Linked DNA regions of Homo sapiens. The protein of the gene in region 5 purifies or fractionates together with the protein of the main gene of each other region. This does not show direct contact. Each region holds a gene or a part of one and is shown on either strand. Other genes may lie near its edges.

The links.
Region 1: the proteins of PCDHGB1 (region 5) and CDON purify together in Homo sapiens (affinity purification with mass spectrometry; 2 studies listed by BioGRID and IntAct, with this or other methods). This does not show direct contact.
Region 2: the proteins of PCDHGB1 (region 5) and PTPRK purify together in Homo sapiens (affinity purification with mass spectrometry; 2 studies listed by BioGRID and IntAct, with this or other methods). This does not show direct contact.
Region 3: the proteins of PCDHGB1 (region 5) and FAM171A2 purify together in Homo sapiens (co-immunoprecipitation; 3 studies listed by BioGRID and IntAct, with this or other methods). This does not show direct contact.
Region 4: the proteins of PCDHGB1 (region 5) and OPA3 purify together in Homo sapiens (co-immunoprecipitation; 3 studies listed by BioGRID and IntAct, with this or other methods). This does not show direct contact.
Region 6: the proteins of PCDHGB1 (region 5) and TMTC2 purify together in Homo sapiens (affinity purification with mass spectrometry; 2 studies listed by BioGRID and IntAct, with this or other methods). This does not show direct contact.
Region 7: the proteins of PCDHGB1 (region 5) and ATP2B2 purify together in Homo sapiens (affinity purification with mass spectrometry; 2 studies listed by BioGRID and IntAct, with this or other methods). This does not show direct contact.

The regions. Positions count from the first base shown.
Region 1 is NC_000011.10:126,017,867-126,021,366, forward strand, and holds part of CDON (cell adhesion molecule-related/down-regulated by oncogenes isoform 2 precursor), read right to left. Parts: coding exon 3,382-3,500; intron 1,900-3,381; coding exon 1,753-1,899; intron 608-1,752; coding exon 464-607; intron 1-463. UniProt on the Homo sapiens protein: Component of a cell-surface receptor complex that mediates cell-cell interactions between muscle precursor cells. Promotes differentiation of myogenic cells.
Region 2 is NC_000006.12:127,975,100-127,978,599, forward strand, and holds part of PTPRK (receptor-type tyrosine-protein phosphatase kappa isoform b precursor), read right to left. Parts: intron 1,956-3,500; coding exon 1,824-1,955; intron 1,684-1,823; coding exon 1,558-1,683; intron 1-1,557. UniProt on the Homo sapiens protein: Regulation of processes involving cell contact and adhesion such as growth control, tumor invasion, and metastasis. Negative regulator of EGFR signaling pathway. Forms complexes with beta-catenin and gamma-catenin/plakoglobin.
Region 3 is NC_000017.11:44,353,854-44,357,353, reverse strand, and holds part of FAM171A2 (protein FAM171A2 precursor), read left to right. Parts: intron 1-765; coding exon 766-924; intron 925-1,001; coding exon 1,002-1,181; intron 1,182-1,279; coding exon 1,280-1,396; intron 1,397-1,512; coding exon 1,513-1,639; intron 1,640-2,162; coding exon 2,163-3,500.
Region 4 is NC_000019.10:45,546,803-45,550,302, forward strand, and holds part of OPA3 (optic atrophy 3 protein), read right to left. Parts: 3' UTR 1-3,500. UniProt on the Homo sapiens protein: May play some role in mitochondrial processes.
Region 5 is NC_000005.10:141,348,940-141,352,898, forward strand, and holds the start of PCDHGB1 (protocadherin gamma-B1 isoform 1 precursor), read left to right. Parts: upstream 1-1,159; 5' UTR 1,160-1,321; coding exon 1,322-3,730; coding exon of another isoform or gene 3,731-3,754; intron 3,755-3,959. UniProt on the Homo sapiens protein: Potential calcium-dependent cell-adhesion protein. May be involved in the establishment and maintenance of specific neuronal connections in the brain.
Region 6 is NC_000012.12:83,130,906-83,133,135, reverse strand, and holds part of TMTC2 (protein O-mannosyl-transferase TMTC2 isoform 1 precursor), read right to left. Parts: intron 927-2,230; coding exon 747-926; 3' UTR 1-746. UniProt on the Homo sapiens protein: Transfers mannosyl residues to the hydroxyl group of serine or threonine residues.
Region 7 is NC_000003.12:10,495,587-10,499,086, forward strand, and holds part of ATP2B2 (plasma membrane calcium-transporting ATPase 2), read right to left. Parts: intron 1-3,500. UniProt on the Homo sapiens protein: ATP-driven Ca(2+) ion pump involved in the maintenance of basal intracellular Ca(2+) levels in specialized cells of cerebellar circuit and vestibular and cochlear systems.

The DNA.
Region 1 (3,500 bases), on a different chromosome or scaffold from region 5:
AGCATGTACAGAACTCTTCTATAATGCATTCATGTATTTACTTTTTTTTTTAAGACAGAGTCACATTCTGTCACCCAGGCTGGAGTGCAGTGGCGCAATCTCAGCTCACTGCAACCTCTGCCTCCCACGTTCAAGCGATTCTACTGCCTCAGCCTCTCAAGTAGCTGGGACTACAGGCATGTGCTGCCACACCCAGCTAATTTTTGTATTTTTATTAGAGACAGGGTTTCACCCTGTTGGTCAGGCTGGTCTCAAACTCCTGACCTCAGGTGATCCACCTGCCTCAGCCTCCCAAAGTGCTGAGATCACAGGGGTGACCCACCACACCTAGCCTGTATTTACTTTTTTGGTAAGACTTTTTATGATAAACAAACAGGATTTGAAAAAAAAATGAACTATCATTGCCCAACTTTTTATGAGGACTCTTCCTCTTCCAGTTACCATTATTCTCCCAAATACTTACGACTCACAAGGAGCTTTCGGCCAATAGGTTCAACTTTTAATTGATGTGTGACAGGATTATAAGCTGCACATTTGTATGATCCCTTGTCCTCTAAGGATACATTCAAAATCTGAAGATTTCCTGATGGAAGGATTAAGTAATTCTCTGAGGAAGGAAGGGAGTGCAGTTAGGCCTCTCCCTTTATGAAGGACACCACAGCACAACTAAAACTCACAAAGGCTGATCATTATGCTCTATTCCATCTTATTTTATTTTAGAGATGGGGGTCTCATTCTGTCACCCAGGCTGTAGTACAGTGGCATAAGCATGGCTCGCTACAGCCTGGAACTCCTGGACTCAAGCGGTCCTCCCACCTAAGCCTCCCAAGTAGCTGGGACTACAGGTGCATGCCACCACACCCAGTTAATTTTTAAATTTTTTGTAGAGATGGGGGTCTCACTATATTGCCCAGGCTAGTCTTGAACTCCTGGCTTCAAGTGATCTTCCTGCCTCAACTTCCCAAAGTGCTGGGATTATAGGCGTGAGCCACCGGCCAGCCTGCGTTACATTTAGACATGAGATTAGCGGTAAAGAAGCAATCAAGGAAAATTTCTTAAATGAAGGAAAGGGAAAGTCAAGGCAGAATAGAAAAAAAAGTCTACAGAACTAGCATAGCAAACCAAACCCAGCAGAAGCATGTTAACGGTAGTGAATCTCAAAGCACAAGAAACATGCTTTGACTTTGGCAAACCTCTAGCTACAGCACTGGTCACATGGTGTTCCTGCACTGTCTAGTCATTCATTTTTTTTCCACAAATACATATTAAGGGGCTACTTTCTGCCAACAATGGCCAGGCACAAGTGCTACGGCAAGGAAAAGAGCAGACAAAAACCCTGCATGCATGCAGCCGGCATTCCAGTAGGGGTATGTGGGGAGGTCAGAGGAAAAGACAAACAATAATAAACTAACAGAAATATGAATAACACAGTATCAGGTGTGATCAATTCTATAAAGAAAAGCAAAACGAAATAAAGGGGCCAGAGAGCACCAGGCATATTATTTTAGATAGGACCATGAGGGCTATCTTTTCCAAGGAAGTGAAATCTGATGGGGGTCTGAAGGAACTGAGGGAGTGAGGCCTCAGGGTATGGGGCCGTAATTATTTGTATATTGTAACCATTTGTTTTAGTCCTCTCCACTCATGCCTTCTTGTATCCACAGTTCGTCCCTAGCACACAGAGCTTAGAAGTAGCTTATTTAATGAGCATTTGTTCTGTGTGTGCCACCGGCTTTTCACAAAAGGTCTCACCTGTGGAATGTTCCAGCCATTTTCCCCGGATTTTATAGCGCACCTCAGCTTTGGGGTTACTCTCCGGTACCCTGCAGCCAATGAAACCAGCACTTTTTTCTTCTGCTGTAATAACATGCTTTGTGGATGAACCAAAATCACCAAGAACTGAAATATATAAGGAAACAGATAAATAAATACATGCAAATTTGAATTCTTTTTCCCAAAGGAAATTTACAAATTAGAAACAACATCTGCAGCACGGCCTTTTGTGGCAGCTGACCCCAGTCCAGAGGGCTGCATGATCTTTTCATCTCAGAAAGCAGCTGGGGCAAGCTACTCAGGAGGCTGAGGTGGGAGGATCGCTTGAGCCCAGGAGGTTCAGGCTGTGATGAGCCAAGCAGTGGAGAGCCACTGCACTCCAGCCTGGGTAACAGAGTGAGACCCTGTCTCAAGAGAAAAAAAAAGAAAAAAAAGAAAAGAAAGCAGCTGGGGCACATGTGCATGGTTGAGGGCTAAGACCGAAGTCACGGCACCCTTTTTCATAAGTCAATGCTTCTAGGGAATAAATATAAACTGCTCCTAAGACATCTAGAACCATAAAGCATAATTATTCCCATTCAGTCAAGATAAATCCTTTTCAATCCAGTGCCCCATCAAAACTCACTTTCCCTACGGATCTTTAATCTGTTTGTAGCTATTCACATTGCAATAAAATGATTTCTGGAATGAACCTAGGACATCAAAAAAATAAGGAAGGATATCATTATTTAGATTATCTGAATCTACTAACTTGGTCTCAATTCCTCTCAGTCTCAGTTCACTACGGACGGAGCCTGCAGGGGACTCTTTATTATCTCCAGGGCTCAAAGCACTCAGCAGCCTGCCACGAGGAATTCAGCCCTCCAGTGTGTGTCTTACAGCTGTCCATGGGTCACAGCTCTACAAAAACATTTACTCTTCTCAGTTATGACAAACTCACTACTCCTGGGGAATCCAGATTTGTTCTGTAAATAGGGGTGCCCTTACAAAGACGTTTTCCATTACTGGAAGCCATCACCGTTTGAAACGCAGATGGCTCCAACTTACTAAGAAAAACCACGCATTCCAGATTTTCCGTAAGTTCAATACTCAACATTCCTTTCTTTACAGTTACTTTTTTCCTGCTTTTTAACCATGGCTTCAATTAAATATATTAAAATCACTCAGTAATCAAGGCAAATAAAACAATTAGATGTGAAAGAAAGACAAAGGACTCCAGGAAATAACTGTCAGAGTAGACAACAGCTTTTGTTGTTAATGATATCATGGATTTCCAAGCACTCACAAAGAAATTGTTCAGAATTCACATTTAAAAAGTGTCCTTCCCTGGCAAAGCTGCAGAGATTATAAAGAAAAAAAAAAAACTGTCCTAACTGCGTAACTTTAAAAAAATCATTTCCATATCATTGTTACTGATGAGGGCATGAGGCCAGGCTCACAGAGGTCTAAGTGCACTTCCACAATATACTCACAGCAAGAGTCAAGGCTGAGATAAAAACTCCTATATGCTTTACACCAAAGCCCATGGTCTTTCCCCTCTTCAGAAATATAAGCACTAACAGTAATTTCAAGAAAACCCATACCTAACAGGGACAAAATTAAACTCACCTGCCACAGATACTGTCGCAGGGCCACTCACAATGGCACCGATGCTATTGTTGGCAAGGCACTGGTAGTAACCCAAAAGAGAGGAGTTGAGAGAAAGAATTGTCAGAGTCCCCTGATGA
Region 2 (3,500 bases), on a different chromosome or scaffold from region 5:
ATGTACTAATAAGGACCAGAATACCAAATACAGAGGCAGTTCAATAAGTAAGCAAACAAATAAATAAATATGCTGACAAAAATATAACATTTCAGTTCCTGTTCCTAGAATATTTTTCACATAAACTGCTCAATTAACAGACAAGCCTTACTGTCTTCAGCAGTTCTGTTTTTTTCCAACTCAAATATTACTAGAACCATAATGTAACAGATGTGCAGACATAATGAGATTCCATTTAAATTAACATCTAAGATATGCATGAATATTATGAGATGATTGAAGTTATCCTTTTTTTCTCCACTGAAATGAGCAATAGGAGTCGATATGATTCCATTCCCTGCTCATAGTTATATACATATAGACTTATTAACCAGACACACACGTAGTCATTTTGATATGAGAGACACTGAAACATGATAATCCTAATCACACACTTAAAATACATACCCACAGAGCTGGTGCTTTAAAAAACAGAGTAATGTTTCTCTCTAAAAAGAGCTTAATTTCATGAAAGTTACTAATGTTTTCTTTTCCAATTCTGCTTGTTATTTGGTTACATAATCTAAATTGTTTTTATTAATATCTTTTTTTGGGGGACGAAGTCTCGCTCTATACAGCCTGGGGTGCAGTGGCGTGATCTCAGCTCACTACAACTTCTGCCTCCCGGGTTCAAATGATTCTGCTGCCTCAGCCTCCCCACTAGCTGGGACTACAGGCATGCCACCACCATGTCCAGCTAATTTTTGTATTTTTAGTAGAGATGGGGTTTCACCACGTTGCCAGGCTGGTCTTGAACTCCTGACCTTATGATCTGCCCGCCTTGGCCTCCCAAAGTGCTGGAATTACAGGCATGAGGCACTGTGCCCGGGCTTTATTAGCACTTTTTTTTTTAAGATCTTCCCCACCCACATTGAATTTGTCATGTAGTGGAAAGCAAATGAGGAGTCAGAGAAAGACGATACAGTTACTACTTTGCTGCTGGGAAAAGGCATGGTGGTAGCAGCACTGGTTCTACCTTTAGATCTGCTTAGAGCCATAGGTTGAGACGTTTAGGAAGATGAAATTGCAGGTAGGATAATCAATAATGAACTTGGAACAGTGACATGGAACCCTTCTATAATGGTTGATCCAACATGTCTCTTTCCTCCTGCAGTACAGTTTCTCTGTCATTATTGTTATTGCAATGTTCTTATTTTTTTTATCACATGCCATTTCTGGGCTGGATGTCAATACTAATAAAACATGCAGTCATCCTTAAGATAAGTCTACATACACTCAGAGGCCAGGCCTAGGCTGTCCAACTTGACTGAGCCAGTGCATCTGTATTTCCTGAGAGAATATGCTAGTCTAGTGACTGACCGAAAAACCTAGCTTCCAGCATTTCTGTTTTCCTGTATTTTTATTCGAGTACTAAGGCATAAGATGGTTACTAGCTTTGAGGTGGATGATATAGTGCTTATTAATTGTAGTCTCCCTGTTGTCTGAATAAAATTATACCACATCTTGGTTATGACTGACCTATTCTAGATCAGCTCAAAGGATCCGATAGTGACTTACTCTTGTTAGATTGCATATCCTAAAAATCCGGTTGATCACATCACAGTCCATTGAACAAGACATACATTCCACTTGGATGGGGCCATATCGTAGCATCCCTTCCTCTGGCCAGTACTGAGGGCAGCCCTAAATGATGAACGTTTTGAAAGAAAAAAAAAAAGAGTATTATTTTTTCTAGTTAGGAGAGTATAAAGCAGATTTTAGCAATTCATTACTACTCTATTAAGTTGTATATAAGTACATAAAAGCAATCCATAGCCATTAACCTGGGACAAGTCGACTTCGTTTAACATCACAATGGAGGTACAGCCATAATCATACACTAATCTCCAGAAGTCTTTTACAGTGTTTGGCAGAGGGTATTGTGTGACGATGAAAGCAGCTGGTTGCCTGTAGCTCTGTGAAGAAACAAGGTAGATGGAGAAATATAAAAACTTAAAATGTATGATCGGTTGTACAAACAGATACAATACACTTCAATGTAGGACCAGTAAGATGCAATAGCTTCATATGCAGAAGGAGCCAGAGTGATGATTAAACCATGGAATAGGAGATTCAGACCACTGGAATGAACTGAATTAGTACAGTAATGAATCAATTTGGTGGAAGACTTCAATGCTTCCAAAGCAATTCAAGTCAATAACTGAGTTTTTACTTTACTGAAAGACGTAAATACAGGACAAATACAAAAGAAGAAACTAAAAAGCTTCTGAGGTTAACATCCTCTGTAAGGTTCCTGTTGGGCTATTTCAATTTTCCAAACGTAATCAGTCTCTGAGAGGCTGAAGGCAAAGTAAGCACAAAACCCCTGGTATGTCTATCAATCATCTGGGTATGTGTATAGTGTGTGTGCGTGCAAGTAAAATTGTTTTACTCTTCTCCACTCCAAATAAGAAAAACCACAAGTAGCTCAAACACTTGTGCTTTTACATTATGTGGACACTACCAGGATATTCTGCACATCTTGCAGACAATCCACCTTCCACAGCTTCCTGGGCATTTCTAACATATATCAAAGGTCATAATGACAGTCTCAACCATTTAAGATCCTGAAGCACCAAAGCATAACAGCAATATATTTCCTGTCCCCACATAAGCGGGGAGATAGCTCCTTGTTAACCAAGTCCTCCTTGATTAGAACACAATATATTATCTCTTTCCAAAGGGAGAAGTAGTAAAAACAATATTTATCTGGACTGGACAATTGCCATTTGATTTAAACTAATTATTTGCAATAATAATAATAATAATTAGTAGATTATAGAGTTCCCTAATGCTGACAAAAATTTTCAATGATCTTGTAACTCATTTGTATCATACTACTATTTAAGTCCTTCAAGAATCTTAACATCAGCACAGGAACTGGTTCTTGGACTTCACTGATGCTACCACCATTTGGGAAATGCTACCAACCATGGCATTCAGCGTTGGCTGAAGACTGCAGGATAAATCTGAGTAGATGACAATAATAATTTACCTGGCTACTTCTAAATGACCTCAAAACCTTACCAAGTTACACGTGCAGCTGGGATGAGTGTCTCCTAAGAAAGGCAGGAAGGTTCATGAGTCATATTGTTTGGCTCTGTGTCCCCACCCAAATCTCACCTAGAATTGTAATAATCCCCACATGTCAAGGGCAGGACCAGGTGGAGATAATTGAATCATGCAGGCAGTTTCCCCCATGCTGTTCTCCAGATAGTGAGTGAGTTCTCATGACATCTGGTGGTTTTATAAGGGGCTTCCCCCTTTGCTTGGCACTCCTTCCCCTTCCTGCCACCATGAGAAGAAGGACGGGTTTGCTTCCCCTTCGGCCATAATTGCAGGGATCCTGAGGCCTCCCCAGCCCTGTGGAACTGTGAGTCAATTAAAACTCTTTCCTTTATAAATTACCCAGTCTCAGGTATGTTTTTATTAGCAGTGTGAGAATGAACTAATACAATGAG
Region 3 (3,500 bases), on a different chromosome or scaffold from region 5:
TCTTTTGAGATGGAGTTTCGCTCTTGATGCCCAGACAGGAGTGCAATGGCACAATCTCAGCTCACCGCAACCTCCCCCTCCCAGTTTCAAGTGATTCTCCTGCCTCAGCCTCACGAGCAGCTGGGATTACAGGAATGCACCACCACACCCAGCTAATTTTGTATTTTTAAGAGAGTCAGGGTTTCTCCATGTTGGTCAGGCTGGTCTCCAACTCCTGACCTCAGGTGATCCACCCACCTTGGCTTCCCAAAGTGCTGGGATTATAGGCATGAGCCACTGCACCCACCTAGAAAAAAATCATTACATTTTTAAAAATTAAAAATCCAGTTCCTCAGTCACACTAGCCACATTTCAAATGCTTAACAGCCACGTGTGTCCAGTGGGTACCATAATGGGCAGCACACCTAGAAAACATTCCCATCACAGCAGACGTTCATCTTTGGGCCCCCAGTGTCTAACCTGGTGCCTGCCACATAGTAGACAATACTGTTTGAGGATCTGGATCGCAACATTTTATAGGTTCTATAAGGAAACTTTCTACTAAAACAAGTAAATTGCTGAGGGTCACACAGAGATTTCAGGTCCATGTCCCTTCCAGGTTAACATTCCATGACTGCCCAGCTTTCTCCCCAAGGCATCACCCTCCCTGGCCTTCCAAAGTGGCCTGACCTCATGTCCCCCTTTTCCTTAGATAATGGGTTTCTGCTCTGGTCCCTGGGGATCCCTGTCCATGGTCAAGCCACTGCAGCCCCTCTTTCCCTCCAGGTGCCCGCTCCCAGCCCTTGGTGCAGTTCCAGCGCCGGGCTGCCCGCCTGCCTGTCAGCTCCACCTACAGCCAGCTCTGGGCGTCACTTACGCCTGCCAGCACCCAGCAGGAAATGCGGGCTTTCCCTGCCTTCCTGGGCACTGAGGCCTCCAGCTCAGGTAGGCTGGGTGCCCAGCACGGATGGGGTCTCCCCAGGCTCAGGATCAGCCCTCAGCCCTGTACCCTCTTCCCTCAGGCAATGGCTCCTGGCTGGAGCTGATGCCCCTGACTGCTGTGAGCGTGCACCTGCTGACAGGTAATGGGACAGAGGTGCCGCTCTCAGGCCCCATTCACCTGTCCCTGCCCGTGCCCTCCGAGACTCGTGCCCTCACCGTGGGCACCAGCATTCCAGCCTGGAGATTTGACCCCAAGAGTGGTAAGTGCCTCAGGGGGCTGCAGGTGCTTGAGTTGAGAGAAGAAAGTGGGACTTGAGTGGGAGCGACTCAAGTGTGACAAAACCCCTGCCTCTCCCAGGGCTGTGGGTGCGCAATGGCACTGGTGTAATCCGGAAGGAAGGCCGGCAGCTCTACTGGACCTTCGTCTCCCCCCAGCTGGGGTACTGGGTGGCCGCCATGGCCTCCCCCACGGCTGGTAAGAGTAGTGGGGCAGTGGGCGTAGAGGCCGCGGAGGAGGGGAGCTGGGAGAGCAGACTTCTGAAAGGCAGGAAGGGTGTCTACACCTGAACGCTAAGCCCTCGCCTGGCACAGGGCTGGTCACCATCACGTCGGGCATCCAGGACATCGGCACCTACCACACCATCTTCTTGCTCACCATCCTGGCAGCCCTGGCCCTGCTGGTGCTTATCCTGCTGTGTCTGCTCATCTACTACTGCCGGTGAGCACGGGGCTTCCCTCACCCTCCCCTGCACTTGTACCGGGCCCTGGGGCCCCAAAGATGCATAAAATCCACTTCTGGTCCTCAAGGGGCAGACAGGAAAAGACTTCCTGCAAACATGCTAAGACCTGAAGGGCTGGTGCTGGTGGTTGAAGACAGCGGGGAGGTGGGAGGGGAGGCAGGGCTTAAGGACTTGCAGCCCGGCCCCTCCAGAGAGATCTGCCACTGCCCCTACCAGCCCAGCTCTCTCTCCCAGAGGACTCCAGGCCGGACACACCCATAGACAGCTTAGATGCTCATCCCTGGTTCTCGCAGCACATCCTACATGCAGAGGAGTGCAGAGTTGACCCTGAGGGGATCGCCAAACGGACACGGCGGCTCCCCGCCATCTCTCCTGAGCGCCCCAGGCATTCTCCCCACCTCTTCCACTATATTCGTCTCTTGTCTTGCATCTAAGGGGGTTCGGGGCCTACTTTGGCCCTCACCCTTTCCTGAGCGGCCCCTTCTGCTCCCTCCCTTCCAGGAGGCGCTGCCTGAAGCCGAGGCAACAGCACCGCAAGCTGCAGCTCTCGGGGCCCTCTGACGGTAACAAACGAGACCAGGCCACCTCGATGTCCCAGCTCCACCTCATCTGTGGGGGACCCCTGGAACCCGCCCCGTCGGGGGACCCCGAGGCTCCGCCTCCAGGCCCCCTCCACTCGGCCTTCTCCAGCTCCCGGGACTTGGCCTCCTCCCGGGATGACTTCTTCCGCACCAAGCCGCGCTCTGCCAGCCGCCCGGCCGCCGAGCCTTCGGGTGCCCGCGGGGGCGAGAGCGCCGGGCTCAAGGGCGCTCGCTCGGCCGAGGGCCCCGGCGGGCTGGAGCCCGGCCTAGAGGAGCACCGGCGGGGGCCCTCGGGGGCTGCGGCCTTCCTGCACGAGCCGCCCTCGCCGCCGCCGCCCTTCGACCACTACCTGGGCCACAAGGGGGCGGCCGAGGGCAAGACCCCCGACTTCCTGCTGTCGCAGTCGGTGGACCAGCTGGCGCGGCCGCCGTCGCTGGGCCAGGCGGGGCAGCTCATCTTCTGCGGCTCCATCGACCACCTCAAGGACAACGTCTACCGCAACGTCATGCCCACCCTGGTGATCCCCGCGCACTACGTGCGCCTCGGCGGCGAGGCGGGCGCCGCCGGCGTGGGCGACGAGCCGGCCCCGCCGGAGGGCACGGCACCCGGCCCGGCGCGCGCTTTTCCCCAGCCCGACCCCCAGCGCCCGCAGATGCCGGGCCACTCGGGCCCGGGGGGCGAGGGCGGCGGGGGCGGCGGCGAGGGCTGGGGGGCCGGGCGCGCGGCGCCCGTCAGTGGCTCAGTCACCATCCCTGTGCTATTCAACGAGTCCACCATGGCGCAGCTCAACGGGGAGCTGCAGGCCCTGACCGAGAAGAAGCTGCTGGAACTGGGCGTGAAGCCGCACCCGCGCGCCTGGTTCGTGTCCCTCGACGGGCGCTCCAACTCGCAAGTGCGCCACTCTTACATCGACCTGCAGGCGGGCGGCGGGGCACGCAGCACCGACGCCAGCCTGGACTCGGGCGTAGATGTCCACGAGGCGCGGCCCGCGCGCCGCCGGCCCGCGAGGGAGGAGCGGGAGCGCGCCCCGCCTGCCGCGCCGCCGCCGCCGCCCGCGCCCCCGCGCCTGGCGCTCAGCGAGGACACGGAGCCCAGCAGCAGCGAGAGCCGCACGGGCCTCTGCTCTCCGGAGGACAACTCGCTGACGCCGCTGCTGGACGAGGTGGCGGCGCCCGAGGGCCGGGCGGCCACGGTACCCCGGGGGCGGGGCCGCAGCCGCGGGGACAGCTCCCGCAGCAGCGCCAGCGAGCTGCGGCG
Region 4 (3,500 bases), on a different chromosome or scaffold from region 5:
TTACAGATGTGCACCACCACACCCGGCTAATTTTTGTATTCTTTTTATTAGAGACGGGGCTTCACCATGTTGGGCAGGCTGGTCTCGAACTCCTGACTTCAAGTGATCCTCCCACCTTGGTCTTCCAAAGTACTGAGATTACAGGCGTGAGCCACCGCGCCTGGCCTAAAACTCTGCTTCTTATTGTGGCACGTGGCTGTAGATTGAGGTGGAGGTTCTGAGATCTGCGCGCAGTGGGGGTTACTGCTGAGCACTGGGGTCATTTCCTATGGGGAAGGAGGGAGGGAGGGAGGACTCCACAGAGGGGGAAGCTGAAGCCAGATGTGGTGGAAGCAGAGGCCTGAGTGATCCTGTTGGGGCTCCAGAGCTGGGATGACCTCCACAGTTGTGCCAATCAAGGCAAGGGGCAGCCTTTGCTTGCCTGGCCCCCTCACCTAACTTCTCCCCTCGCTTACTCTATTCCAGGGGATGGTAAACTTTTTCTGTAAAGGGCCAGAGAGTACGAGAGCCCTAGGATCTCTGTGCAAATACTCAGCTCTGTCACTGTACTGCAAAAGCAACTGTGGAAAATATGCAAACGAATGAGCGCCTGGGTTCCAATAAGTCTTTATTTACAAAGACAGGAAGCAAGGGTCCCCTTGATTTGGCCCAAAGGCCTTGGTCAGCGAGCCTCTGCTCTATTCTGACAGCCAGAAACTCTTGCTGTTCCAGGAACAGGCCAAGGCCACATCTGTCCTAGGACTTTCACAGATACTCACAGCCCTCTTCCTATCTCCCTCCATCTGAAGCGCTGCCTCCTCCCTGCCCACCTGTCTAGATCAGCGGTGCCCGTAAGTCCGGAACTCCTACCCTGCCTCCATTCCTCTCAGTCCTCATCACCCTATGCTGGATTAGCTTTTTCCTTTTTTTTTTGAGATGGAGTCTCGTTCTTGTTGCCCAGGCTGGAGTGCAATGGTGCAATATTGGCTCACCGCAACCTCCGCCTCCCGGGTTCAAGCGATTCTCCTGCCACAGCCTCCTGAGTGGCTGGGATTACAGGCATGCACCACCATGCCCTGCTAATTTTGTATTTTTAGTAGAGATGGGGTTTCTCCATGTCGGTCAGGCTGGTCTCGAACTCCCGACCTCAGGGGATTGGCCCGCCTCGGCCTCCCAAAGTGCTGAGATTACAGGTGTGAGCCACCACGCCTGGCCACTCTTTCCTTCTTTATTGCCGGTCTCTGGCACTAGAATGTCAGCTCCAGTGAGGGCCTCTGCTTGCTCCCAACTGGCTCCCAGCTACTAGAATGGAGCCTGGTGCAGTTGATCCTCAGTACACTCAGAGTTGCCATGCTTCTCCTCTCTCTGTCCACACCGACTCCAGCTACAAGCCATTGCCACTGGGGGACCCAAGCCTGCCACTCAGCAACACAGCGACCAGCCCAGGAGTAGCTCCGTGAGCCAATAGATCAGGTTGGGGCTTATGTAAAGCCCATTTTCTCCTGGGGTGGCTCTCAGCCATTTTGCCTCCCTCCAGGCAATGGCCTGCCCTACAGAGAAACCAACAAGAGGGACAGCAGGGCCTGCCAGGAGATGGGAGGGGCACAGCCCTCAGGGCACCTCCCAGGGTTTTGTGAGCTGGGATGAATGGGTTTATAGTCCTGAGTCACTCCAGAGGGAGGATTCCGGATTCAGCCCAGCCCCTGCTTCCTAAACAACTATGGGGTGGGGCAGGGAACACTGGAAAAGAAATGTACGTGTGAGCATCTGTAAGACCCGGTGACGGCAGGGCTGGGGCTGTCTCTGTCACCACTGTGACCCCAGCATAGGGTGGGGCAGAGAGTGGGTAACTCAGTGAGTTTTGTGTTTTATTTTTTTTATTTTTTTTTTTTTTGCGGGAGACGCCCTACCAAGGACACTGGGTCCATGTCCCGGTGCGGGACCACCTCAGTGAGTTTTTTGAGTGAAAGAATAAATAAAGGATATTTTTCCTAAGGTTGACATGGACCTTATTTATTTATTTATTTATTTATTTATTTAGAGATGAAGTCTCGCTCTGTCACCCAGGCTGGAGTATAATGGCATGATCTCGGCTCACTGCAACCTCCGCCTCCCGGGTCCAAGAGATTCTCCTGCCTCAGCCTCCCGAGTAGGTGGGATTACAGGTGCACAACCACCATGCCCAGCTAATTTTTGTATTTTTAGTAGAGACGAGGTTTCACCATGTTGATCAGGTTGGTCTTGAACTCCTGACCTCAGGTGATCCACCCACCCTGGCCTCCCAAAGTGCTAGGATTACAGGTGTGAGCCACTGCGCCCAGTCCCAAGGACTTTTTAAATATGAAAAAAGAATGCATCAACTTGAAGATAATCAGCTTCATTTACAAATTTATTCTAACCCCTCTCCCCAAATTACAAGGTACACAGAATTCTAGCTAGCAGAACACACGAGCAGTGAACCATCCTCTGGCCTCTTGCATTTTGAGAGGACGTTCTTTCCACTTCCACACACTCTGGCCACCCCTGACGCCGCAGTGGGGGAAGTAGATGGCCCTGCTGCCCACGATGACTGGCTGCCTGTCAGGGCAGGGCAGGGCAGGGCTGAGTGCGAAGTCTCTGAGATGTGAGAGCAGCACTCCATCTGGGTCAGGACAGCGCTGGGGTCAGGAATTGGAGCTCCTGCCTGTGTTCACACTCCCACCTCTGTTTTTTTTTTTTGAGTTGAGTCTCACTCTGTCACCCAGGCTGGAGTGCAGTGGCGCGATCTCAGCTCACTGCAACCTCCACCTCCTGGGTTCAAGCAATTCTCGTGCCTCAGCCTCCCGAGTAGCTGGGATTCAGGAATGTGCCAACATGCCCGGCTAATTTTTGTATTTTTAGTAGAGACGGGGTTTTGCCATGTTGGCCAGGCTGGTCTCGATCTCCTAACATCATGTGATCAGTCCACCTTGGCCTCTCAAAGTGCTGGGATGACAGGCGTGAGCTGGCCTGGGTCACTCCCAGTTTTAAACACAGCCCACTCAGGACCCACTCGGTCAGTTCCCTCTGCTCCAGCTTCTCCCCCTCTTCCAGAAGGAACTGAAATGCTGTTTCAGGCCAGGCGCGGTGGCTCACGCCTGTAATCCCAGCACTTTGGGAGGCCGAGGCGGGCGGATTACCTGAGGTCAGGAGTTCAAGATCAGCCTGGGCAACTTGGAGAAACCCCGTCTCCACTAAAATACAAAAATTAGCCAGGCGTGGGTGGTGGGCACATGTAATCCCAGCTACTTCGGAAGCTGAGGCAGGATCATTGGTTGAGCCTGGGAGGTAGAAGTTGCAGTGAGCCGAGATTGCACCACTGCACTCCGTCAGGGTGACGGAGCTAGACTGTCTCCGAAAGAAAAGAAAAGAAAAAAGAAGAGAAAAGAAGAAAAGAAAAGTTTCAGAACCTGTTTCTTGGCTTTCTATCTGGGCAGATCTTGGTCCAGGCCAGTTTTACCTCTTTAGAGAAGGGAGGTGAGGATGGAAGTCGGGGAAAGCCC
Region 5 (3,959 bases):
CCTGGAACTACAGAATAAGTTCCAAAATTGGGTGTCTAAGAACTCTGAATACCTCTCCAATATTTACCAGTGGTCAAGTCAAACTCGTTTTGCTCATTAATGGTATAAGTCGGCTGGAGCTGAGAATTGGCATTATAGAGAATGTTTTTGAGACAGAGTCTTGCTCTGTCACCCAGGATGGACTTCAGTGGCATGATCTCAACTCACTGCAACCTCTGCCTCCTGAGTTAAGTGATTCTGCTGCCTCAACCTCCCGAGTAGCTGGCGTTACAGGTACCCGCCACCATGCCTGGATAATTTTTATTTTTTTTAGTAGAGATGGCTTGCACCATGTTGGACAGGCTAGTCTCAAACTCCTGACCTCATGTGTTCTTCCCACCTTGGCCTCCCAAAGTGCTGGGATCACAGGTCACTGCACCCAGCCTAGAGTATTTAATATACATTCATATAAAAAAGAAGCACTGGTTTCATAAAACAAATGTACATTATATGAGATTCCACTTCATAAAAGCATGTATGTGTACCCCAACACTAAATTGGCCCTTTTAACAAAATATCAGACTTTGTCCTACTTAACTGGAAAGATTATCTATATTTTATAAAGAAGAGAAATAACATAATAGTAAGGCTGTGATTTCCTCTTTTTTGCAAAAACTATTTTTGAAAAGTATTACTGAATTGATAACATATATATGGAGAGATTTAAAATACTAGATAAGGGAGCTTATTCCAATGAATTTACAGAAAGGTAGGTATTTTAGTCAACTAAAAATATAAATAAAAATTATCAATTCACTTATTTGGATACAGCAGTCATGCCAGAGTTTATAAATATAGTGAAATCACTGAAGATTTTTTTTTACCCCCAAAACTGAAAAAAATGGCAGTGTACCTTGTGAATTTTTTAAATGAAAAAAGAATACGAAATGATGAAGGCCCTTATCTGATGATGACAAACTAGAAAACTGAAATGTAAAGGGGAAAATGTGAGTATGTGTTTCCCTCCAGCAAATTAAAGACAGGGTACATAGATTCAAGAGGTTGCGCTTTGAGGATAAAAAGCTGGGCCCTGTGCAGTTTTCCAAGACAACCTCTGGGCGCCGCTGTCGACCAAAAGGAAGTGAAGGCTTCTCAATTCTGCAGGAGCGTCAGGCAGGGTGCCTTCCTGCTTTGTCCGGTGCACTGAGCACAGACGCTGCTCCTGTTCACCCTCGAGCGCCTAACTAATAAGTCCTAAGCTCAAATCACAGAAGTCCAGGGTGCTGCCATTTCTTTTTGAAAAACATCCCAGAGGAAAGAAGCTCCGCGGAGAGTTCCTGAAATGCAGAGAGCCAGAGAAGCCGAAATGATGAAAAGTCAGGTACTGTTTCCCTTCCTGCTGTCTTTGTTCTGCGGGGCCATCTCCCAGCAGATCCGATACACGATTCCAGAGGAGCTAGCCAACGGCTCACGGGTGGGGAAACTTGCCAAGGATCTGGGGCTCAGTGTCCGGGAGTTGCCAACTCGAAAACTGCGGGTTAGTGCAGAGGATTATTTCAACGTTAGTTTGGAGAGCGGGGATTTGTTAGTGAACGGTAGGATAGATCGAGAGAAGATTTGCGGAAGGAAACTTGAGTGTGCACTAGAATTCGAAACGGTCGCTGAAAACCCAATGAATGTTTTCCACGTGGTTGTTGTAATCCAAGATATTAATGACAATGCACCACGTTTCGTTGCAAAAGGCATTGACTTAGAAATTTGTGAGTCAGCCTTACCCGGGGTAAAATTCTCTCTGGATTCTGCTCAAGATGCAGATGTGGAAGGCAATTCACTGAAGTTATACACCATCAACCCCAATCAATACTTCTCTCTGTCAACGAAGGAAAGTCCTGATGGAAGTAAATATCCGGTATTACTGCTGGAAAAACCTCTAGACAGGGAACATCAGAGCTCTCATCGCTTAATCCTGACTGCCATGGATGGCGGGGACCCGCCTCTAAGCGGCACCACCCATATCTGGATCCGAGTTACGGATGCCAATGATAATGCTCCCGTGTTTAGCCAGGAGGTATACAGGGTTAGCCTCCAAGAAAACGTACCGTGGGGAACCTCCGTGCTGCGGGTGATGGCCACAGACCAGGATGAGGGCATTAATGCAGAGATCACCTATGCCTTCCTCAATTCCCCAATAAGTACCAGCCTCTTCAATCTCAATCCAAATACTGGCGACATCACAACCAATGGCACATTGGATTTTGAAGAGACAAGTAGATATGTGTTGAGTGTGGAAGCTAAGGATGGAGGAGTACACACAGCTCACTGTAATGTTCAAATAGAAATTGTTGACGAGAATGACAATGCCCCAGAGGTGACATTCATGTCCTTCTCTAACCAGATTCCAGAGGATTCAGACCTTGGAACTGTAATAGCCCTCATAAAAGTGCGAGACAAGGATTCTGGGCAAAATGGCATGGTGACATGCTATACTCAGGAAGAAGTTCCTTTCAAATTAGAATCCACCTCGAAGAATTATTACAAGCTGGTGATTGCTGGAGCCCTAAACCGGGAGCAGACAGCAGACTACAACGTCACAATCATAGCCACCGACAAGGGCAAACCAGCCCTTTCCTCCAGGACAAGCATCACCCTGCACATCTCCGACATCAACGACAATGCACCTGTTTTCCATCAGGCCTCCTATGTGGTCCACGTGTCTGAGAACAACCCACCTGGCGCCTCCATTGCACAAGTAAGCGCCTCCGACCCGGATTTGGGACCCAACGGCAGAGTCTCCTACTCTATTCTGGCCAGTGACCTGGAGCCGCGGGAGCTGTTGTCCTACGTGTCCGTGAGCCCGCAGAGCGGGGTGGTGTTCGCGCAGCGCGCCTTCGACCACGAGCAGCTGCGCGCCTTCGAGCTCACACTGCAGGCCAGGGACCAGGGCTCCCCCGCGCTCAGCGCCAACGTGAGCCTGCGCGTGTTGGTGGGCGACCTCAATGACAATGCGCCACGGGTGCTGTACCCCGCGCTGGGGCCTGATGGCTCCGCCCTCTTCGATATGGTGCCACGCGCCGCAGAGCCCGGCTACCTGGTGACCAAGGTGGTGGCGGTGGACGCAGACTCAGGACACAACGCTTGGCTGTCCTACCACGTGCTGCAGGCCAGCGAGCCCGGGCTCTTCAGCCTGGGGTTGCGCACGGGTGAGGTGCGCACAGCGCGTGCCTTGGGCGACAGGGACGCGGCCCGCCAGCGCCTGCTGGTCGCTGTGCGTGATGGAGGACAGCCGCCACTCTCCGCCACCGCCACGCTGCACCTAATCTTCGCGGATAGCCTGCAAGAGGTATTGCCAGACCTCAGCGACCGCCCTGAGCCCTCTGACCCCCAGACGGAACTGCAGTTTTACCTGGTTGTGGCCTTGGCCTTGATCTCAGTGCTCTTTCTCCTCGCGGTGATTCTAGCGATCGCCCTGCGCCTGCGACGTTCCTCCAGCCTCGACACTGAGGGCTGCTTTCAAACCGGTCTCTGCTCCAAGTCTGGGCCCGGGGTTCCTCCCAACCACAGCGAGGGGACTTTGCCCTATTCCTACAATCTATGTATTGCCTCTCATTCTGCAAAGACAGAGTTTAATTCTCTCAACCTGACACCGGAAATGGCTCCCCCTCAGGATCTGCTGTGTGATGATCCTTCTATGGTTGTATGTGCCAGTAATGAAGATCACAAAATCGCTTATGACCCTTCTTTGTCTTCGCACGTGAGTTTCTGCAAATCTAGTTAAATTTTATATATGGCGGCCGGGCGCGGTGGCTCAAGCCTGTAATCCCAGCACTTAACCAGGCTGAGGCAGGTGGATCACTTGAGGTCAGGAGTTTGAGACCAGCATAGCCAAGATGGTAAAACCCGGTCTACTAAAATTACAAAAATTAGTTGGGTGTGGTGGCACGCGCCTGTAGTCCCAGTTACTCAGGAAGCTGAGACAGGAG
Region 6 (2,230 bases), on a different chromosome or scaffold from region 5:
TTTAAAAAATGCCTGCCTGACACATATAAGGCCTCCCCAGTCCCTCATACAACTCGAGTGTGAAGTATGGTTAGCTCTACTCTCCATATCCTTTTCAGAACATAAAAAGCAAATGATGTCCAAAAGAATGAAGCCTCTGACATCCAAATCATAAAACATTATGTGCACTGGTCAAGAAACATAGCAGATTCTGACAGATCTTGACACAGTATTAAAAAAAGTGTTCTAAGCTTCAGAAATTGATAAGCAGGCTGTCCCAAACAGGGAAGACAGCAGCGTTAGGACAACCGGCGGCTCACTGGGACTCACACTACGTGTTTATCACTCCCTCGTAACACTTAACCCTAATTGTTTGCCATGCCTGAATGGACACTCTGACTTCCTCTCACAGTGTTTAAGGAACAACATAATTTTGAAATTAGCTTTCAGAAAATGAACAAAATCTGTGACTTACACACCCACCCCTCCCTTTTTAAGAATGCCAAAAGGTTCTGTTTTAAGTGCTCTGGTTTACAGTCTATGGGTAACAATGACATCCTCCAGGAGGTTTCCGGCTTTCCCCTTTTTGGTGTTAACAGCTGTGCCTACAGCAAAGTGGATTCTTCCAGAAGCGGTAGTGACCTCAATGACCTCTGCCCTGGTCTTGAAGTCTAACACCAGCTCTTGTCATAGCACTGCTGGGAAGTTCTGTCTGCTAAGGAAGCCAGCTTTTAAAAATGGAGGAGGATGGGCTTCTGCCTCCTGTGTCAGGTCTTAGAAGTCTTTAAGCCTTGTTTTTCCATGATGTTCCACAGTTTGCGGAGATTGGACTGTGTGATGACATCGTCTGGCTTGAGCTGCAGGGCCCGCAGGTAGTTGGCCTCGGCCTTCTGGAGTCTGCCATTGAGGTGCAGAATGGCTCCCAGGTTCATCAAAGCAGCCGGATACTGCAACAAGAGAAAGAAGGAAAACAATTAGGAGGCCATTTCAAGCTTTCCTTCATGGAAAACAAAAATCTTCATCCACTTATGCAAATAATTCCCTTATGTCTAGAGGCATTTTGTGAAAGCAATTTAGCAATTTATACAAACAGATAAAGATAACTAGGAAGATGGAAAGTTTTCAAACACCTGCTGTGTACTTTGTGCTTTAAAAAGGACAGGCTTCTAGAGAAATAGTATTTTTTCTTTAATGAGAAAGCATAGGTAACATATGAAGATCTAAAAGCCTAATCAGATGGTACTATTTGAGAAAAAAACCTTTACAAGTGATACAATTTCAGATGGAAAGAATTTATAAAAATTTCAATTCAATGACAAGAAATAAAAAATAAGTGGGTAAAGTTGACAAATCCATATCTATTCATTCTTTGTTTTCTCTTCTTAGCAATATCCCAGGCTTTTAACACAAAACAATTAAAATAAACTATGAAATTTTACGGATGTTTTTGGGTAAAAATCCTGAAAAAAATTAAAATGCAACCACTAAAGCCCTTCCCAAACCTGAGTTGTTCAACAAGGCAAAGTCTTTATTTTTAAAAGCCAAACACTGTTTAACCTGTAATGATGAATGTTTACCATAGAGTGAAGTAAAAAATCCAAATAGATAAAATATGGCAGAGAAAAATGAAACCTTTCTAAGAAAAATTTTATATTACTTATTAAAAAGTAGTTAAGTAATTCTCATAGAATTTTCAATAATGCGTAATAATTGCAATACAAAGCTATCACATGTGGAAAAAAGGTTAAAAGTGTTTTTTACATGGCATGAGTTATGTTGCACCAGTTTAATACAAAGGTTTTCATCCCCAAATTCTCAGACATTAGTTAACAACAGCAAAAGTCCCTCCCAAAGGAAAATATATTTTGCTTGCTCTTTATAAATAAGGCTGTTCTGCTCCTGTCCCTGGAACATTCTGGCTAACAGAAAGCAGATAATATTTTGGCAGTTACACAAATGCATATTTCAAATATCAGATAAAATTAAAGTGTTTATGCTATGATTACACTTTCATTTTGCAGATCGTGTCAACTATTAATTGTCCTTCAATTCTGTGTTAAAGTCCGAAATCACAATTATTTTTAAGATTTGGTGTTTTCACAAGACATGCACTTTTCAGCTGAATTCATGTGACTCTACTCTTTACCGTAAAATCAATTATTTCTGAACCAAAAGCAATGCTACAGGGGAGAGTAGAATAGCTAGAATAAATTGACTTGGGGGATTTTGGATTTTTAAGAGATCTGGGTTT
Region 7 (3,500 bases), on a different chromosome or scaffold from region 5:
GGGAAGCTGATGTCTCCACTCAGCTCAGAATTTCCTTCCCCTGAGGTCATGGGGCAGACTCAGGCCTCTGAGAGGGCAGAGAAGTGCCTAGAAACAGCCCTGGGTCCCAGTGCCAGGTCTCGCTTAATTTTATTGCTACTCCCTGAGTGCAGGAGTGGCCCAGGCCACATACTCTTCACCACACTGACCCCATTTTGTAGATAAGGAAACTGAGGCTCTGGAAGCTCTAAATACTGTGGTGGTGAGGCTGAGTCTTGGTCCTGGAAGTTATTCATGGCCTAGCCCCCAGGCAGGGCACCCGCAGTCGTATACCACCTTCTACCTGGGGCTGCCTCCGCCTCCCAGCAGGAGTTGTTTCTGGAGCTGATTCATCTCTGAGCTCAGCAAGGAGCCCGACAAACAGCCTGGTCCACACCAAATACTTAGCTAATACTGGTTTTATTGATTTGCATTCTATGCCCTCTTCAGGATGCTCTGAGCTCAGAAATCTGAAATTGGCTGGGGGTGGGATGGGGAGAAGGGCTTCATTTTAATCTGAAGTGAGTCATGTAAGTTGATAAATTTAGAAGTGGCCTAAAGAGCTCTTAATCTGCTGCCTTCAGATAGTTGCTAGGAAGAGACTGGCACCCAGCAACCTTTGCATCCCAAATCCACATAACAGAGTGGACACTGTTGGTGCCCACCCTAGTCCTCCTTACCGGTCTGCAGCTTCCACACCCCAGCTGCTGGGAGCTAGAGCTCCCGGCTGCCCCTTCTTTGCAGGCTTGCCCTGGGAAGAACAGGAGCTCCTGCCCGGGCAATTGCACACAGCATCCCACTCAGAAGGCAGCCGTGGCCAATAACTATCTGATATGGGGTATGAAAGGCCAGCTTTTTTGCTTCAAGGCAGAGCCAAACCTGGGGCGCAGTTCATGCCCCACATCCCCCAAGGGATCAGCTGAGGCCACACGCTTGTTTATCTCTTTCTCTCCCTACCTTGTTTCCTTTCAGCCCCTTTCTCCTGAGCGCTGTCTCATGCTTGCTCCTAGTGAGTCCAACCCAAGATCCACACACATTGCACTCCACACGCAGACACTAGCTCCACCCCTCCAACCCCGCCCCTTCCCCCGTGACCTGGACATCAGCAATGTCCAGGCAGCTTCGAATTTTAGACATTTAAAGTCTCAGGGGGCCCATCTGGCTCCAAAAGGCTTGTTTCAAAGATGGGAAACTGATGCTCAGAAAGAGACTGTGACTTGTCCAAGGTCACTTGAAGTGCTTGTCATGGCTGGCTGCACCCAGGTCTTTGTCCTCCCCCCAACTCCAATCCACTTTGTGGCCCTAGCCTGTCTGGTGGCTGGACCAACGGGCCAGCCACGGCTTTTGCTGTCTCCAGGAGGGAATTTTGCTGTGTCAACTCTGCAGAAGCCACTTGGAGGCCAGGAGAGTGCTGGCTGGTGGGCTTGCAGGATGGTTGGCAGGCTCTGCTGACCTTGGGCAGCTGTGGGCAGGGTGGGCATCCCAGTTAGGCCCCTTCCACTGTTTGTGGTGGTCAGGCAGAAAATTGAGGGAAGACAGAAACGACTTCTAATGAGGGCCCTAATTACCCTGTGGATCCCTGAAGCACTGGTGATGTATCTGCTGGTGGCTTCTTCTAGAAACCCTCCTCTCCATGGCAAGAACTGCTTTCTCCATAAGAGAAAGAGTCCTGAACCAACATGGGCAAAGAGGCAGCATTGGGCTGGTGCCTGGACATTGGGCTGTGGTTCCAGTCTGCTGGGAGCTGGCTGTGTGATCCTGGGCAAACCAGCATGCCTCTTGGCCCTTGGTTTTCTCAGCTATAAAGCAAGTGCAGCCTCAACTGCTATTATTTTATTGAGCCTAGTGTTTATTTTAGTATCATTTATTGAACTAGAAGAGACTCATTAAAGTTCATCAAATAATAATTGCTTACACTTCTGCCAAGGGCTGTCCTAAGCACTTTAATTTTACTTAATCCTCACAACAATCCTATGAATTGGACACTTTTGTTATCCCCATTTTACAGATGGTGGGACTAAGGCACAGAGAAATTAAGAAACTTGTGCTGGGTCACACAGCATGGAAATGGTGGAGCAGGAATTAGAATCCCAGAGTCTATGCTTTAAATTCCTCCTTGTACTACGGTCTTTGCTGTTTGTTTTGCACGGCCATTTATTAAGCACCTACTGCATATGGGGACTCTGCTGGTCACGTAATACACACAAAAGTTTGCCGACTTCTCACAGCTGCTCCGGCAAGCAGGTGTTCTTTTGCTGATTGTTTCAGAGTGGACACAAAGGACCCAGTGAGGGACTCACCGCAACTGAGCTGGGGAGGCAGGTGGCAATCCTGGCTTCTTCCCACCAGCCTGGTGGCTCTGTTCTGAGCCCCTTATAAAACTGATCTTATTTATCATATTTTCTTGACTCTAACCTGTATCACTACTTTACGTATATTTAAGAAATAAAAGGCATGGCTGGTTCCACTGTGGTGTAACACCAGTTGTCAGGCACAACCTGGCTTCAGAAATGTCAAAATGTATATCTTGGAATCCGCACAGTTCAGTCTCCGACACAACGGCCTGATGAGGCAGGCAGTGTTGTCATCTCCATTTGACAGTGGAGGGAACGGAGGCTTGGAGATTAAGGACATGCAGCTGGTCAGCGGCCAGGCATTGGATGTGACCCCAAGCAGCCTGGGCCCAGATGTTGTCCTCAACTACTGCGCTACATCAACGCTAAGTCAGGCCCACGTAGGATGGCGTGCCCTGCCCATGGGCACAGATCAAAAAACTTCAGAAGGATCAGTGAGCTGGAGGCCAGCACCCTCTGCTCCGGATGAGCCTGGGGGCCTCACTCAGCGTGGATGCCTCAGGCATGCAGGAGGCACCCCAAATGGCTGCCACAGCATTCCCCGCCCACTGCCTCCACAGCTCCCTTGGGCCTGCAAGGCAGGTGTTTGACAGAGCTGGGCTAGAATGAGTTCATCCAGATGACGCCCCCATGGCTCCCACAAAATGGTCCCGGGGCAGCCAGACATGGCCCGGTAGAGTAGCCCAGCCGGCACAGGAAAGGCACCACTTTATAGGAAACTGCCTTCAGAGGCAGCACAGAAGCTTGCAGAGACCTGCTTTCTTCCTTCAAAGCTACATGGTGCTTGGACCCCAAACGGTGTCATCCATTCACTGCTTCTCCCATAGGCTCCACCAATCCCATATGCTCCACTATGGCACGACTGCTCCCAATTTTCCCAAATCAAATCCACCCTCCTTGGACTAGGATGTGCCCCTTCTGGGGACATCTTTAAGATGCCCACAAGCAGGGCAGAAGCTCAACATATTTCGAATGCCTGGCATGATGAGGGTTCCATTTGAGACATTACCTACCCATCATCTCGTGGCACAATCTTGTGAGGCAGGTTTTTCCCACTCCACTTTGCATATCAGGATGTCAAGCTCAGAGAAGCAAAGCTACCTGCCCAAGGTCACACAGTAGTAAACA